2 separate regions of the Homo sapiens genome follow, and region 1 is linked to region 2. Evidence: fine-mapped expression QTL. Tissue or cell type: whole blood. Region 2 holds a variant in brackets; the other region holds the start of a gene. All regions are shown on one strand. Distances are from middle to middle.

Region 1 (8,096 bases), 94 kb before region 2:
CTTCCCCTTCAGGCTGCAGACTCTGTGGAGGGTTGTCCTCCTCTCTAGAGAGTAGATGCTCTAGGCTGGGCGTGGTGGCTCACGCTTGTAATCTTAGCACTTTGGGAGGCCAAGGCGGGCAGATTGCCTGAGCCCAGGAGTTTGAGACCAACCTAACCAACATGATGATACCCATCTCTACTAAAAACACAAAAATTTAGCCAAGCGTGGTGGTGCATGACTGTTGTCCCAGGTACTGGGGGGCTGAGGCAGGAGGATCTCTTGCCCAGGAGGTTGAGGCTGCAGTGAGCCCTGATCGTGCCACTGCACTCCAGCCTGGGCAACAGAGTGAGACCCTGTCTCAATACATACATACATACATACATACGTACATACATACATACTTACATAACACAAAAAATTAGCTGGGCATGGCGGCATGTGCCTGTAGTTCTGGCTACTTGGGAGACTCAGATGGGAGAATTACCTGAGCCTGGGAAGTCAAGGCTGCAGTGAGCTGAGGTTGCGCCACTGCACTCCAGCCTGGGTGACAAGAGTGAGACCCTGTCTCAAAAACAAAAAAAAACAAACAAAGAGAATAGATGCTTAGTTAATGTTGGCAAAGAGAATGAATGAGTACATTAAGCTTTTCTTTTATTTATTTATTTATTTTTTTTTTTGAGATGGAGTCTGGTTCTGTCACCCAGGTTGGAGTGCAGTGGCATGATCTTTGCTTACTGCAACCTCCGCCTCCTGGGTTCAAGCAATTCTCCTGCCTCAGCCTCCCGAGTAGCTGGGGTTACAAGCATGTGCCACCACGCCCGGCTAATTTTTGCATTTTTAGTAGAGATGAGGTTTCACCATGTTGGCTAGGCTGGTCTCAAACTCCTGACTTCAAGTGATCCACCTGCCTCAGCCTCCCAAAGTGCTGGGATTATGGGAGAGAACGCTGCGTCCAGCTTGTCAAGCTTTTCAACAGCATACTGAATATTTCCACCTGCATGTCTCCTGGAATGCTGAATTCTGCATTTCCAAAAATGAGTCATCATCATGTTGGGGCTCAGAGAATGATACCCCAAAGTATGCTCCTCTGGCATTCTGAGCACTTTTGAATGAAAGGAAATTGGAAGGACTTACAAGCTGCCTCAGAACCAAGGACTTTTTAAAGTCTTGTTTCACCACCCCACATGCATGCAGGGGCTGTCTGAAAGTTCCCTTAGCTGACTGAGAAACCAAAAGAAATTCAATTGTGTACTTGCTTTGGCAGCACATATACTAAAATTGGAATGATACAGAGATTAGCATAGCCCCTGAGCAAGAAGACATGCAAATCTGTGAAGGGATCCATTAAAAAAGAAAGAAAGAAAAAGAGCAGGTGTGGTGGCTCACGCCTGTGATCCCAGCACTTTGGGAGGCCAAGGCGGGCGGATCACCTGAGGTCGGGAGTTCGAGACCAGCCTGACCAACAGGGAAAAGCCCCATCTCTGCTAAACATACAAAATTAGCCGGGCGTGGTGGTGCATGCCTGTAATGCCAGCTACTCTGGAGGCTGAGGCAGGAGCATCACTTGAACCTGGGAGGTGGAGGTTTCGGTGAGCTGAGATCACGCCATTGCACTCCAGCCTGGACAACAAGAGTGAAACTACATCTCAAAAAAAAAAAAAAGAAAAGAAAAGAAAAAAAATAGATGCGACTGTCTTAAAATTTCCTCCCTAGGACTCTCGTCAAATAACCAGGAAATATTAACTACCAGAGAAGAGAAAAGACTAAAAGTTGTCACCACATCCAAACAGACTTTTCATCTATTCTCCTGAGGACAGCTGAGATTATTTAGGAGACTTTATCTGCATAATAAGACAACCTTTATTTACAGTGAAGTCCTGCACCTCACCTTCCTGAAATTTGTCACAACCTCCAGCTCCCAGAGCTCAGAGGAACTTTGTCCCAGGCATTGTTTGGGCTCATTCCTTTTCCCTAAAAATAGTTGACTACCTTTCAGTATTGCTGACCTCCGCTCATCTCCCTCTCCTCTGCAAAGATGGTGCTCTTTAAGCTTCAGCCACCTGGCTCTTCTCTGAGTCTCATATTCTGTATGGTAACCATGCACACTGCATGTCAGTAAATTTGTATGTGCTTTCTCCTGTTAATCTATTGCCAGTTTATTTCAGCAGACTCAAACTGTCAGAGTGGAAGGGAAAAATTCCCTTCACCCTTACAATCATCTCCTCACCTGCCCTTCCCTGTTCTCTGTGCCTGCCCCCTCCAGTCAGCTATGCCTCTTGACTGGCAAATTTCTGTGTTCTCCCTGTTATCCAGGCCCACTCAAAACAAAAAACTGCAATTCTTCCCTCATGTCTTCCTCTCTGCTTAGCAGCTAAGTCCCTCCCTTCCATTTCTATTTTTTTCTGACTGCTATTTTAGAACAAAGTGGCATAGTGCGGGAAAAAAATGAGGATTTTAGAACAAGACAGGCCTTAGTCCAAATCTTAGGTCTACTATATTTTGGCTTCCTTGGGTAAATTACTAACCTCTCTAAGGCTTAGTTTCCAAGTCTGTAAAATGGGGATATTACCCACCCTGTGGAGGCGCTATGACTTAAGTATGCATCAAGTGGTAAATAGAGGGTCCTTTTCTTATTTTCACCTCATATCAGACACCTCCTGCTCAGAAACCTTCAGAGGTTGCCCATCACTTGACTATGACACCTAAGCCATGCATTTTGCATTTTGGCCCCTCTCTCTCATCACTCTTCCCCCCAATTACTGGGGCTTGGACTAATCAAAAACATTGGTTGATGGCCAGGAGTGTTGGCTCACATCTGTAATCCCAGCACTTTGAGAGGCTGAGGCAGGTGGATCACCTGAGGTCAGGAGTTCGAGACCAGCCTGGCCAACATGGCGAAACCCTGTCTCTATTAAAAATACAAAAATTAGCTGGGTGTGGTGGCAGGCTGCTGTAATCTCAGCTACTTGAGAGGCTGAGGTGAGAGAATGCTTGAACCCAGGAGGCGGAAGTTGCAGTGAGCCAAAATCATGCCACTGCACTCCACTCCAGCCTGGGCAACAGTGCAAGTCTCAAAAAAAAAAAAAAAACCAAAAAAACAGGCATGGTGGCTCACGCCTGTAATCCCAGCACTTTGGGAGGCCAAGGTGGGCGGATCACCTGAGGTCAGGAGTTTGAGACCAGCCTGACCAACATGGAGAAACCCCATCTCTACTAGAAATACAAAATTAGCTGGGTGTGGTGGCACATGCCTGTAATCCCAGCTACTCGGGAGGCTGAGGCAGGAGAATCCCTTGAACCCGGGAGGCGGAGCTTGCGGTGAGCCAAGATCGCGCACCATTGCACTCCAGCCTGGGCAACAAGAGCAAAACTCCGTCTCAAAAAAAAAAAAAAAAAAAAAAAACAAAAGGCTGATTCCATTACTCTTTCCTCTTTCCTCCCTGCTTTCACTTTGCCGTTCAAACCAAATCCTTCTTGATTAGCTCAGCACCAAGTACTGGCTCCCTCCTCAGCCATCCCTATGTGTAGTTCAGTGGCACTTGGGGCCAACTGCTTGTCTTACAGATTAGGCAACTCTAGATTACAAAGCACTGAAAGCAGGGGCTTCATCTGGTTGGTCTTTGACCCTGCAGAGCCCCTTGCACACAGGTGATGCTCAATAAATACTTGGTGAAAGCACAATTCATTTTCTGTGTTTCAATGGGCTTCTTTTCTCTATAGAATCAGATGCTTGGTTATTCTCACCTCAGCGCTATTTTGTTGGCTTCCAGAAGGCACAGTAACGCTAGGTGTGTTGTGTTCTATCCTTTAATTGGAAGAGCTTTGGGAACTGAAAAATAAGAATTATTTCTCCAAGCCTCATCTTCTGCCACTCCCCCGTACTCACCGGCCTCATACAGGAATTGAACTACTTAGCACTGCACAGAACACGACTTTCTCTCTCACGCCTCCGTTCCTCTGTACTTAGCCTCTGTACTTACGTGCCATTCCCTTTCCCTGAAATGCCCTTACTCTGGCTTCTCTGCCTGGCAAATTCCTACTCATCCTCCAAGACTCAGATCAGACATCGCCGCATCACATCTGTGAAGGCTCTTCTGCAATGGGCAGTGTAGCAGTACCCCCTCCATTTTTTTAGCTTCCTCAGCAAACTCCAAATAATTATAACAGTACTTATGGCATTATTTGTTTATTTTTCTTCTACTTCCTAGACCGTGAATTCCTTAAGGGCCAAGATTTCTGTTCTATCCCCAGCACAGTGTTCGGCCTATATTGGAGAATCCGGTCCGTACAAACTCTGCAGTGATTCAATCAATGAGCAAACAAACTCACCAATCATTCAACACAGCAGAGTTTGTACGGACCGGATTCTCAAATATTTTAAGACCTGGTCCTCTATTTGGAGTGCTTCATTCTGGAAGATCTCTTCCTCCCCCAAGCCCCTACCCATCCAACTGCCTAGGTTTGGTAGAAGAGGAAAATAAAGTGATTAGACGGGGGAAGAGTCCTTCAGGGCTAAGCTGTCATTTACCCGCTCTGGCACCGAGAGGGTTACGGCGACCCGGGGGCGGAGCCGTGCGGAGGCCACCTGCTGCGGGGAGGTCTGGCGCATGCGCCCTGACACCTAGCTGGTTCCCTACCCGCAGGGGCCCGGCTGAGGAGGAGCGCTTGCGCTCTGGGCCTTTTCCGCCGGGGGAAGTCTCGCGGGGGCGGGGCGGGGCCTCGTGGAGAAGTTCTCGCGGGACACCGACGGGGAGCGGAAGCCAGGAGGTATTGCTGCTTCGGCGACCGGGCGGCGGCAGCGGCGGCGGCGGCTGTGGCAGAGTCTGTGCCTGTGGCGGTGACGGCGGCGGGAGCAAGCGCTGCCCTCGCAGAGCAGCCTTGGGGTCGCCGGCCGCTCGCAGCGTTGTGGAGGGGCGGGCCGGACGCTGAGCGGAGCAGCTGCGCCACGGTGAGTACGGGAGGCTGCGCTCGGCGCCTCTCTCGTGCCTTTTCCTCTTGGCTCTACAGCGGGAGTGGGCCCCGGGGGAACCGGGACCGGCCCCGGGGTTCGCGTCGGGGCGGCGAGGCTTGGGACGTGGAGCGCAATCCCCGGGGCTCCGGACTCTACGTTTCCCCTTTTGGGGCGCTTCCTTCCTGGGGACCGTCCTCCTCCGGCTCTTGGCTCTGGGCAGTCCGGGGGAAGAGGTCGGGGTTCTCTGGCGAGGTCCCCTGCCTTCATCGGGAGGGTTTGCACGGAAGGGGCCCGGGAAGCCCAGGCGGGCCGAACGCCGACCGAGTCAGTCTACCCGAGCCTGGCGGCGGGGGACTGGTGTGGGCTGCAGCTGTGGTGATTGATGTGCCTTCGACCTGCACGGCAACCACGTCACCATCTCCTGGCGTCTTTGGGCTTAATTTTGTGCGGGAATCCACTTTGGGGTGGAACGTTTGCTGCTGGAGCCGGGGGAGATACCTTTATTCTGACACTTAAAAAAAAAAACTATTTGAAAAATATTTGTCAAGAAAAATTCAGCAGTAGCAGGTTGGACTGCACCGAGGAAGGATTGCGGCGAGAGCGGGCGCTGGTAATTTTCATTTGCAGCGCGCCCTCTCTATGATTGTAAGCCACACATGAGTTATGGCTTGTTTAGAAAGTTTTTCAAGGCTGGCTTCAAACGCTGTGAAAGTGCAGTTTGCAGGGGACTGAAGTGCACTTGAGGTCTGTCTCTTTTTGATGCTGTTGACTTTCCGAAATGTCAGACACATGAGAGAAATTAGCATTAGTCTATTTTGGCTTTCTTACTCCTCTTTCTCCAGTTATTTCCTTCCTTCTCTATCTGCTTCTGTCCTTTCCACTAGGGACACGAAATGCTTGTGTAATGCAAGTCATTTGCCCCTTCCTCCCCCCACCCCCCCCTTTTTTTCTAATGTACTTCCCCTTCCTCCTTGTAGTCCCCACTCTGGCGTAATTTTTCGAGGTTTCTTCCCTTTCGTGCTGTTCGTTTTCTCTCATTTCAAGATTCCGTCTTTTTCCTCGGGAAGAGACTCTCTTTCCTTGCTTTCGTTCCTTTACTTTTGCGCGTCCCCTGCGTTCCCTGCAGTCAGCCAGAAGGGTTGCTAGAGAGCCGTGGGAGGCTGAAGTCCCCTCTCTGAGAACGGGGAGGCTCAAAAGATTGAATTCATCCCTAAGAAATCAGTCCTGCCACTAGGTCGCAAGTGTGGTTTGCTTGTATTATTTTTGTCTTTTACTCTTTTTCTTTTAAGATTATGCTTCTGTGCCTGCTTATGTTTTCTTCTAGTATGTCTTTATAATAGGAAGATTGGGTCAGCTCAGTGACTTTTTTTTTTTAGGCAGAGTTTTGCTCTTTTTGCCCAGGCTGGAGTGCAATGGTGCTATATGGGCTCACTGCAACTCTGCCTCCTGGGTTCAAGCGATTCTCCTGCCTCAGCCTCCCGAGTAGCTGGGATCACAGGCGCCCACCACCATGTCCAGCGAATTTTGTATTTTTAGTAGAGATGGGGTTTCACTGTGTTGCCCAGGTTGGTCTTGAACTCTTGACCTCAGGTAATCCACCCGCCTTGGCCTCCCAAAGTGTTGGGATTACAGGCGTGAGCCACCGCGCCCGGCCAGAGTTAATTCTTATAATCAGCTTTCTTCTACTAAACACAAGCATTTATTTATTTATTTTATTTTTTTGAGACGGAGTCTCGCTCTGTCGCCCAGGCTGGAGTGCAGTGGTGCGATCTCGGCTCACTGCAGCTTCCACCTCCTGGGTTTAAGCGATTCTCCTGCCTCGCACTCCCGAGTAGCTGGGATTACAGGTGCTCACCACCACACCTGGCTAATTTTTGTATTTTTGTAAAGACAGAGTTTCACCATGTTGGCCAGGCTGGTCTCGAATTCCTGACCTCAAGTGATCTGCCCATCTCAGCCTTGGGATTACAGACATGAGCCACTGCGCCCGGCCTGAACTCAAACGTTTAAATGTTTGAGGCACTTTACTTCGTCAGCAAGTTATTCAGATTTGAGAGGCTTGCTGGGTTTTAAATACTACTGGTTGATGGTACTTAGAGATTCTTCTCAGTAATTGCTGTTATCATGTTGCATGTTGTCCATCAGAGTTCTAATTGTTACACATACAACAGAAGAGGAATGGATTTTGGAGAAATGAAGTAATACAGAATAGAGAGTCACCATGCCCTCCGGAGAGAAATTAATACTTGCTTAATTCAGAGGAACTCTCCACCATTACTGAATGGCTTTTGAGAGTCTGTATATATATATATATTTATATATATATATATTTTTTTTGGTCAAAGTTGCCTTTTTCCTAGTTGTGCCAAGTGAATACGCATTATTTTCTTTTTCCTTTTTTTTTTTTTTTGAGACAGATTCTCGCTCTTGTTGCCCAGGCTAGAGTGCAGTGGCACGATCTCAGGTCACCACAACTTCCACCTCCTGGGTTCGGGCAATTCTTCTGCCTCAGCCTCGCTAGTAGCTGGGATCACAGGCATGCACCACCACGCCTGGCTAATTGTGTATTTTTAGTAGAGACAGGGTTTCTCCATGTTGGTCAGGCTGGTCTGGAACTCCCGACTTCAGGTGATCCACTCACCTCAGCCTCCCAAAGTGCTGGGATTACAGGCGTGAGCCACCGCGCCCGGCCAATATGCATTATTTTCATTTCATGCAAGGACATTGTAGTGCATTATCTGGAATGCAAATTTTAAAATCTGGTTAAGGCATCCTTATGGTATAGCAGTTATTTAAAATTTAGTATCCATAAAAATCACTGGGAGATCTTTTTAAAATTAGGTTCTGGTAGAACTCCAGGATGTACCCCACAGTGAATCAGTCTCTGAATGGGTGGATTTTGATACAGATGGTCTAAGGATCAAAACTGTTGTTACCAAATGCAGCCATAAATAATAAGACTGCTGTGTGGCTTTAAGTAATTCAACTTAAAATTACATTTTTCTGTGTATACACAAAGTCAGTATTTAGAATAGCCTAATGGAATGAGTGACTATAAGCATGATTCATTTTTACATGTGTAAATTTTTTAGCATTCTTAATACTGTGATGTGGAGTGATTTAACTTGAAATTTATACTTAATAGGGTCATTAATTTGCCTAC
Region 2 (8,104 bases):
ACGCTACTGCACCTGGCTAATTTCATTTTTTTTTGTACAGTGGGGTCTGTGTTTCCCAGGCTGGTCTCAGACTCCTGGGCTCAAGAGATCCCCCCACCCTTGGCCTTTCAAAGTGCTGGAAATCCAGGCGTGAGCTGTGCCTGGCCTGGGACGTTTTTGACCTTCCCCTGCAGCAGTCATGTGTGGGAAGGATCTTGACCCAGCAAGAGTCAAGACTGCTAGTCCTGTGGTCCACTTGGGCTGGCCTCCTTGAAGCTGAGCAGAAGTTTACAAAATGGAGCTATGTAATTGAAAAGGCCGGGCGTGGTGACTCATTTAGCCTCATTTGAGGCTTTTTGCTCAATTTGTCCCCTCCCTCGCGTTTGACTGACTGTTTCAGAATTAATGGGAAAATCACTCCTTTTCTGTGATCAGCAGTTTGGTCACAGATTTCTTAGTGATGGTATCTCCCTCCTCAGGGATCCGGGATTCCTGGGAAGACATCTGGGCGGGGTGCCTTGGGAAGCCTCCCAGCATCTTACAGGAGCCCTGTGGCCGGCGTGCAGCCGGGAGTCGCTCAGTGTGTCAGGGGAAAAGCTGGAGGTAGGCGCATGGCCTCGCTCTTCAGGGCACGCCCCCCCCACCCCTCCCTGACACGCTTCCCTCCACCCAGTGAGCTGGGAGCCCCTGACAGGCTCACCTTCAGACTTGAGTGTGGAGGAGATGGTGACCCACAGCGCGGGGCTGCTTAGGTGGCCTCTGAGCCAAAGGCCATGATGGCGCAGGCTGCCTGCCTTCCCTGGGCACTAGTTCCACCTGACTGTTCATGGGGTGGGTGACCTTCAGCCCAAAACGTTCGCTTTATGGAAGTTCCTGGATAACTGGAAAAAATGACAGTGGACCTGTTTTATGCGTCTTGGAAATACTTTTTTTTTCTTTTTTTTTTTTTTGAGACAGAGTCTCCGTCTGTCCCCTAGGCTGGAATGCAGTGGCACGATCTTGGCTCACTGCAACCTCCACCTCCCGGGTTCAAGTGATTCTCCTGCCTCACCCTCCTAAGTAGCTGGGATAACCAGCTCCTGCCACCACGCCCAGCTAATTTTTGTACCTGGGGTCAGGAGTTCAAGACCAGCCTGGCCAACGTGGTGAAACCCTGTCTCTACTAAAAATACAAAAATTAGGTGGGCGTGGTGGCGGGCACCTGTAATCACAGCTACTCGGCAGGCTGAGTCAGGAGAATCGCTTGAACCCGGGAGGCAGAGGTTGCAGTGAGCCGAGATCGCGCCATCACACTCCAGCCTGGGCGACAGAGTGAGACTCCGTCTCAAAAAAAAAAGAGTACAATTCTGTGTGCCAACAGCACTGATAGATCAATATTACATGTTAGTGATATTGATTAAGCCACTTACTGCTTAGTGCATTCCAAACACTACTTTTAAAACTAACACTAAAAGCCATACTATACCCCGTCCAAAAAAGAAATCACTAAGACGTATTTTAAGTCTCAACTCTGGCCCACCCAAGAGCAACACTGGTCTTAGGTCTCCAAGGACAGCCTTCTTTTTTTCTTTTTTCTTTTTTTTTTTTCAGTTGGAGTCTGGCTCTGTTGCTGGAGTACAGTGGCGCCATCTCAGCTCATTGCAACCTCCGCTTCCTGGGTGCAAGCGATTCTGCTGCCTCAGCTTCCCGAATAGCTCGGACTACAGGCGCCCGCCACCACACCCAGCTAATTTTTGTATTTTTAGTAGAGATGGGGTTTCACCATGTTGGCCACGATGGTCTTGATCTCCTGACCTCGTGATCTGCCCACCTTGGCCTCTAAAGTGCTGGGATTACAGGCGTGAGCCACCAGGCCCTGCCCCAGCCTTTTTTTTTTTTAACATTCCTGGATTCGGGTTGAGAAAGCACAGCTATTGCAGCCATTCTCTGAGTGTGAGTCGTGGCGTCAGCAGTGTTGGCCTCCAAAATAGCAGCTGCCAGGTCCTGAGGGCTCGCCTCGTGCTGCAGGCCTGTGCAAGGGCCCGAGCCTGGGGTGAAAGGGTGGATGTTTGCCTCCTGCTGTAACCCCACCCCTCATCCTGCGCTGTGCTAGGGAAGCAAGGGGCGAGGGTGTACCCTTTTTCATTTACTCTGTTACACATGTGTTGCCCACACCTGTAGGGATTGATGGTGAACGTCATTCCTGGGGCGTGTGGAATTGGAGGCAATTATCTCCCCTCTAACTGGAGGCTGAGGAGGGCCCCCGTGTCTTCTCACACCATCAACCACCGCTTTCCATTCCTGCACGGTGGCATTGCTGCCCTGAGTCACCCTGAAACTGGAAACTGCCCCACTGGAGCCTTCTGTCCTTGACACAGACGCACTCTTCAGTCCTGATCCTTGTATTATGCAAGCCCTTGCATGAGAGAGACTCAAAGAGGAAATGTAGACAGCACAGGCTCAAAGGGAGGCTTGGAGGCAGATGGGACTTGCCCTGGGGATTGGGTGAAATGAGTTTGGACAGTTACTAATAGGACAGTAGACACCCAGAGCAGGTGGTCTAGTAGAGGCGTGGCGGTGTTAGCGAGCACCTGCCTGGACATGGCTTGAGGGAGCCTGAGTAGCCTCCTGCAACGAGGAAGAAAGAGCCCAGGTGGGGTTTGTGGGGGACTCGAATGCAGGCTGAGCGATGCCCATTCTGCCTGTTGACACAGGAGGCTTCTGTAGCTTTTTTTTTTTTTTTTTTTTTTAAACAGAGTCTCACTCACCCAGGCTGGAGTGCCGTGGCACGATCTCAGCTCACTGCAACCTCTGCCTCTTGGGCTCAAGCAATTCTCCTTCCTCAGCCTCTCCAGTAGCTGGGATTACAGGTGTGCACCACCATGCCCAGCTAATTTTTGTATTTTTAGTAGAGATGGGGTTTTGCCATGTTGGCCAGGCTGATCTCAAACTCCCGACCTCAGGTGATCCACCCGCCCCAGCCTCCCAAAGTGCTGGGATTACAGGTGTGAGCCACCATGCCTGGCTGCTTCTGTAGCTCTTATAGATCAGCGGTACGATGAAAGATAAGTTTTAGGAACATCTGACTTGCAGTGGTGCGGAGACCAGAATCCGGATAGCCTGGAAGAGGCTAGGGTCGTGTTAGCTGAGTGAAGTCAGGCTCTGCAGCAGAGTGTGCGCAGTGCTCACCTGGCTCTCTCCCGACCAGTTGTCTGGACCATGTGCCCAACCTCCCTGCAGTTCCAAGCAGCCATGTGCTCCAGTCCTGACGTGTGTGGTGTGTTTGGGGCCTTGTGGCCTCCCCACTTTGTTGCTTCTCTTGCCTGTGGGTGGATGCAGGAGAGCCAGCAGAAGACCCAGAGCACCTGCTAGATTTGGAACATGTCTGGGGCGGGGCACAGTGGCTCATGCCTGTAATCCCAGCACTTTGGGAGGATCACTTTAGCCCAAGAGATTGAGAACAGTCTGGCAATATAGTGAGACCCTGTCTCTACAAAAAATTAGACAGACTCAGTGGTGTGCTCCTGTAGTCCCAGCTACTCAAAGAGGCTGAGGCAGGAGGATTGCCTGAGTCTGGAAGGTCGAGGCTACAGTGAGCCATGATTCTGCCACTGCACTCCAGCCTGGGCAGCAGAGACCGAGACCTCGTCTCAAAAAAATGAAACAAATATCAGCTGTGTTGCATCACTGACGGGGGGAGGAGGGTTGTCTGTTACAGCAGCCACACTGCCTATCCAGGGACAATGCTGGGGATAGGACCTGGGGAGAAACTTGAGAGGCCCAGCAAAAAATAGGAGGTTTTGGCCGGGCACGGTGGCTCACGCCTGTAATCCCAGCACTTTGGGAGGCCGAGGCGGACAGATCACCTGAGGTTGGGAGTTTGAAACTAGCCTGACCAACATGGAGAAACCCCATCTCTACTAAAAATACAAAATTAGCTGGGCATGGTGGTGCATGCCTGTAATCCCAGCTACTCAGGAGGCTGAGGCAGGAGAATCACTTGAACTCAGGAGGTGGAGGTTGCGGTGAGCCAAGATCATGCCATTGCACTCCAGCCTGGGCAACAAGAGTGAAGCTCTGTCTCAAAAAAAAAAAAAAGAAAAGAAAAAAATATGAGGTTTTGGAAAAGGAAGTAGAATTGCTTGTCATCTAAAATAGAAGGAAGCAGCAGTGACAGCTTTC[G/A]TAAGACCAGCATCTGCGCCATCTCCTTACAGATGGGGCTGGCTCTTCGGCACGAACCCCACTCTCCAGACCTAGCTGCATAGGACAAGCCAATTTCTCTCTGAATGTCTTTTTTTTTTTTTTTTTTTTTTTTTTTTTGAGACGAAGTCTTGCTTTGTCTCAGGCTGGAGTGCAGTGGCATGATCATAGCTCACTGCTTGCTTGAAGTCCTGTGCTCAAGTGATCCTCCCGCCTCAACCTCCCGAGTAGCTGGACGTGCGCACCACCATGCCCAGCTAATTAAAAAAAATTTCACAGAGATGGGGTCTCACTATATTGCCCAGACTAGTCTTGAACTCCTGCACTCAAGGGATCCTCCCGCCTCAGCCTCCCAAAGTGTTGGGATTAAAGGCATAAGCCACCACACTTGGCCTTTTTTTTTTTTTTTTTTTTTTTTCTGAGACAGAGTCTTACTCTGGAGTGCAGTGGCACGATCTCTGCTCACTCCAACCTCCGCCTCCTGGGTTCAAGTGATTCTCCTGCCTCAGCCTCTTGAGTAGATGGGACTATAGGCACCCGCCACCTTGCCTAATTTTTTTTTTTTTTTTTTTGAGATGGAGTCTCACTCTGTCGCCCAAGCTGGAGTGCAGTGGCACAATCTCGGCTCACTGTAACCTCTGCCTGCCGGGTTCAAGGAATTCTTCAGCCTCAGCCTCCCGAGTAGCTGGGACAACAGGCATGCCACCATGCCCAGCTAATTTTTTTGTAGTTTTAGTACAGATGGGGTTTCACCATGCTGGCCAGGCTGGTCTTGAACTCTTGACCTCGTGATCCACCTGCCTTGGCCTCTCAAAGGGCTGGGATTACAAGAGTGAGCCACCGTGCCTGGCCCGTGGCCTAATTTTTGTATTTTTAGTAGAGACGGGGTTTCACCAATTTGGCCAGGCTGGTCTCGAACTCCTGACCTCAAGTGATCTGCCTGCCTCGGCCTCCCAAAATGCTGGGATTACAGGCATGAGCTACTGTGCTCAGCCTTTTTTTTTTTTTTTTTTTTTTTTTTGAGACGGAGTTTTGCTCTTGTTGCCCAGGCTGGAGTGCAATGGTGCAATCTCGGCTCACCACAACCTCCAGCTCCTGGGTTCAAGCGATTCTTCTGCCTCAGCCTCCCGAGTAACTGGGATTATAGGCATGAGCCATCACACTTGGCTAATTTTGTATTTTTAGTAGAGACGGGGGTTTCTCCATGTTGATCAGGCTGGTCTCGAACTCCCAGCCTCAGGTGATCCACTCTCCTCGGCCTCCTAAAGTGCTGGGATTACAGGCATGAGCCACCGCACCCAGCCAATTTTTTTTTTTTTTTTTAAGAGACAAGAGTCTTGCTCCATGGCCCAGCCTGGAGTGCAGTGGTGTGATCATAGCTCACTGCAGCCTCAAACTCCTGGGCTCAAGCCATCCTCCCACCTCAATCTCCCAAGGAACTGGGACTACAGGTGGTACCACCACACCTAGCGAATTTTAAAATTTTTTGAAGATTTTAGGCCGAGCATGGTGACTCATGCCTGTAATCCCAGCACTTTTGGAGGCCGAGGGGGCCAGATCACCTGAGGTCAGGAGTTCACAACCAGCCTGGCCAACCTGGTGAAACCCAGTCTCTACTAAAAATACAAAAATTAGCCGGGCATGGTGGCCCACGCCTGTAATTCCAGCTGCACAGGAGGCTAAAGCAGGAGAATCACTTGAACCTGGGAGGCAGAGGTTGCAGCAAGCCGAGATGGCGTCACTGCACTCCAGCCTGGGCGACAGAGCGAGACTCTGTCTCAAAAAAAAAAAAAAAAAAAAGTTTTATGGAGATATGATCAATGTAACATTTTTAAGTGACCCATCTAAAGTATATTATTCAATGTTTTTTAGTATTCACAGTTATGCAATCATCACCACAATCCATTTTATTTTATGTTTTTTAGTAGAGACAGGGTCTCACTATGTTGCTCAGGCTGGTCTCAAACTCCTGTCCTCAAGCGACCCTCCCACCTTGGCCTCCCAAAGTGCTGGGATTACAGACATGATCCACTGTGCCAGCCACCACAATCCATTTTAGAACACTGTCATACCCCAAAAGAAACCATATACCCCAGCCTGGGCAACATGGCAAAACCTTGCCCCTACAAGAAATAACAAAAATTAGCCAGCTGTGTAATCCCAGCACTTTGGGAGGCCGAGGTGGGTGGATCACCAGAGGTCAGGAGTTTGAGACTAGCCGGGCCAATATGGTGAAACCTTGTCTCTACTAAAAATACAAAAATTAGCCAGGCGTGGTTGCGTGTGCCTGTAGTCCCAGCTACTCAGGAGGCTGAGGCAGGAGAATCACTTGAACCCGGGAGGCGGAGGTTGCAGTGAGCCAAGATCACACCATTGCACTCCAGCCTGGGCAACAGAGTGAGACTCCGTCTAAAAAAAATAAAGAAACTGCTGATGTTGTCCCAGTGAAGGGAGTGGCAGAGGGCCAAGGGCGTTGAGCTGTATTTAGGAGGAGCTGGGAAGACCTGGGGTGGAGGGAAAGGCAGGTCCAGATGGCTGCAGGGCAGTGGGGGGATCTGTGGCTTTTGTTTGTTGAGATGGGGAACTAGGGGAAGAGGGGCAGGGTGGGGTGAAGCAGAGAGAAAGGCTGGAGGGTTGGATTTGAGGTGCCTGAGGACAATCATCTAGAAAGCAGCAGGGTGTGTTCACCTGGAGCTCAGGAGACAGATCTGACAGGAGATCGAGATCCAGGTGTTGTCAGTGTGGAGGTGGCCCTGAAACCATGGCCACGGGTGAGGCCTCACATACTCCAGTCCCCATAAGGAAGCACAGCCCTGAGGGCTGGGCGAGGGGAAGGCAGGAAGCACACAGGAGAGAGGCCAGAGCGGCAGGAGGTGAGCCAAGAGTCCACAGCACCAGGGACGCCACAGGGCTCCAGGGACAGGGCTGCAGGGAAATGCTCCCTGGTACCATCCTGGTCCCGGCCCTTCGTCCCCCTCTCCCCACTGCCACAAAACCTCCTCCTGTCTCTCCACCCTGCCTCTTTCCCCAGCCTGTCCAAAGAGGGCAAAGTCCAGGCTCCTGCCCCTCAGGAGCAGTGTGATGTAGGACAAAGAGCATGAGATCGCAGGCCTGAGGCCAGGGCCTTTATTCCTCGCTGTGTGACCAGGGCCCCCTTTTTCTCCTTTTTTCTTCCTTTTTTTTTTTTTTTTTTTTTTTGAAACAGAGCAAGACTCTATCGCCCAAGCTGGAGTGCAGTGATGCAATCCCAGCTCACTGCAACCTCCGCCTCCCGGGTTCAAGCGATTCTCCCACCTCAGCTTCCCGAGTTAGGATTACAGGCACGTTCCACCATGTCTGGCTGGTTGTTTGTATTTTTAATAGAAACGGGGTTTCGCTGTGTTGCCCAGGCTGATCTTGAACTCTTGGCCTCAAGTGATCCACCCACCTCAGCCTCCCAAATTGCTGGGATTACTGGCGTGAGCCATGGCGCCTGGCCACGACCAGGGCCCTTAACCTCTCACCCCCATTCCTTCATCTGTTTAAAAATCAAACCAAGGAAAATGTCCCTAGGTTGCTCTGAGGATCCAACGTGATTATGTACACGGGTGTTTTGCAACTGCAACGATTAAGTACATCGTGACAGGTGCTGATTAGGATCTTGGCATTCAAGATCTCATACAGTCTGCACCTGGTCCAATTCTCCAAGCCTTTGGCCAACCAAATCCCTTCTGAGTCTTTGCCTTTGGTCAGCATCTACCTTTCTCCCAGATCACAGGCAAAACCTCAGCTCACTGCAACCTCCACCTCCTGGGCTCAACCAATCCTACCACGTCAGCCTCCCAAGTAGCTGGGACCACAGACACACACCACCATGTCCGGCTAAATTTTTGTATTTTTAGTAGTGATAGGGTTTCACCATGTTGCCCAGGCTGGTCTCCAACTCCTGAGCTCAATCGATCCCCCT

Evidence for each region. PIP is the estimated chance that this variant, and not a neighbour inherited with it, causes the effect.
Region 1: it holds the start of GRB2, and the variant in region 2 is fine-mapped to the expression of GRB2 in whole blood (INTERVAL, PIP 0.92).

Annotation. Positions count from the first base shown.
Region 1 is chr17:75,402,323-75,410,418 of GRCh38, reverse strand. GRB2 (growth factor receptor bound protein 2) reads left to right here and starts at 4,741. Exons shown (of 6, transcript NM_002086.5): 1 at 4,741-4,930. MIR3678 (microRNA 3678) reads right to left here and starts at 4,350; the gene lies at 4,257-4,350. It also overlaps the pseudogene RNU6-938P. RefSeq lists a silencer at 4,504-4,683.
Region 2 is chr17:75,308,302-75,316,405 of GRCh38, reverse strand. No RefSeq gene overlaps it. Among named protein-coding and RNA genes, the nearest start is that of SLC25A19, 23 kb to the right of the region's middle. RefSeq lists an enhancer at 262-411. The variant G/A (reference allele first, on the strand shown) is at 4,141.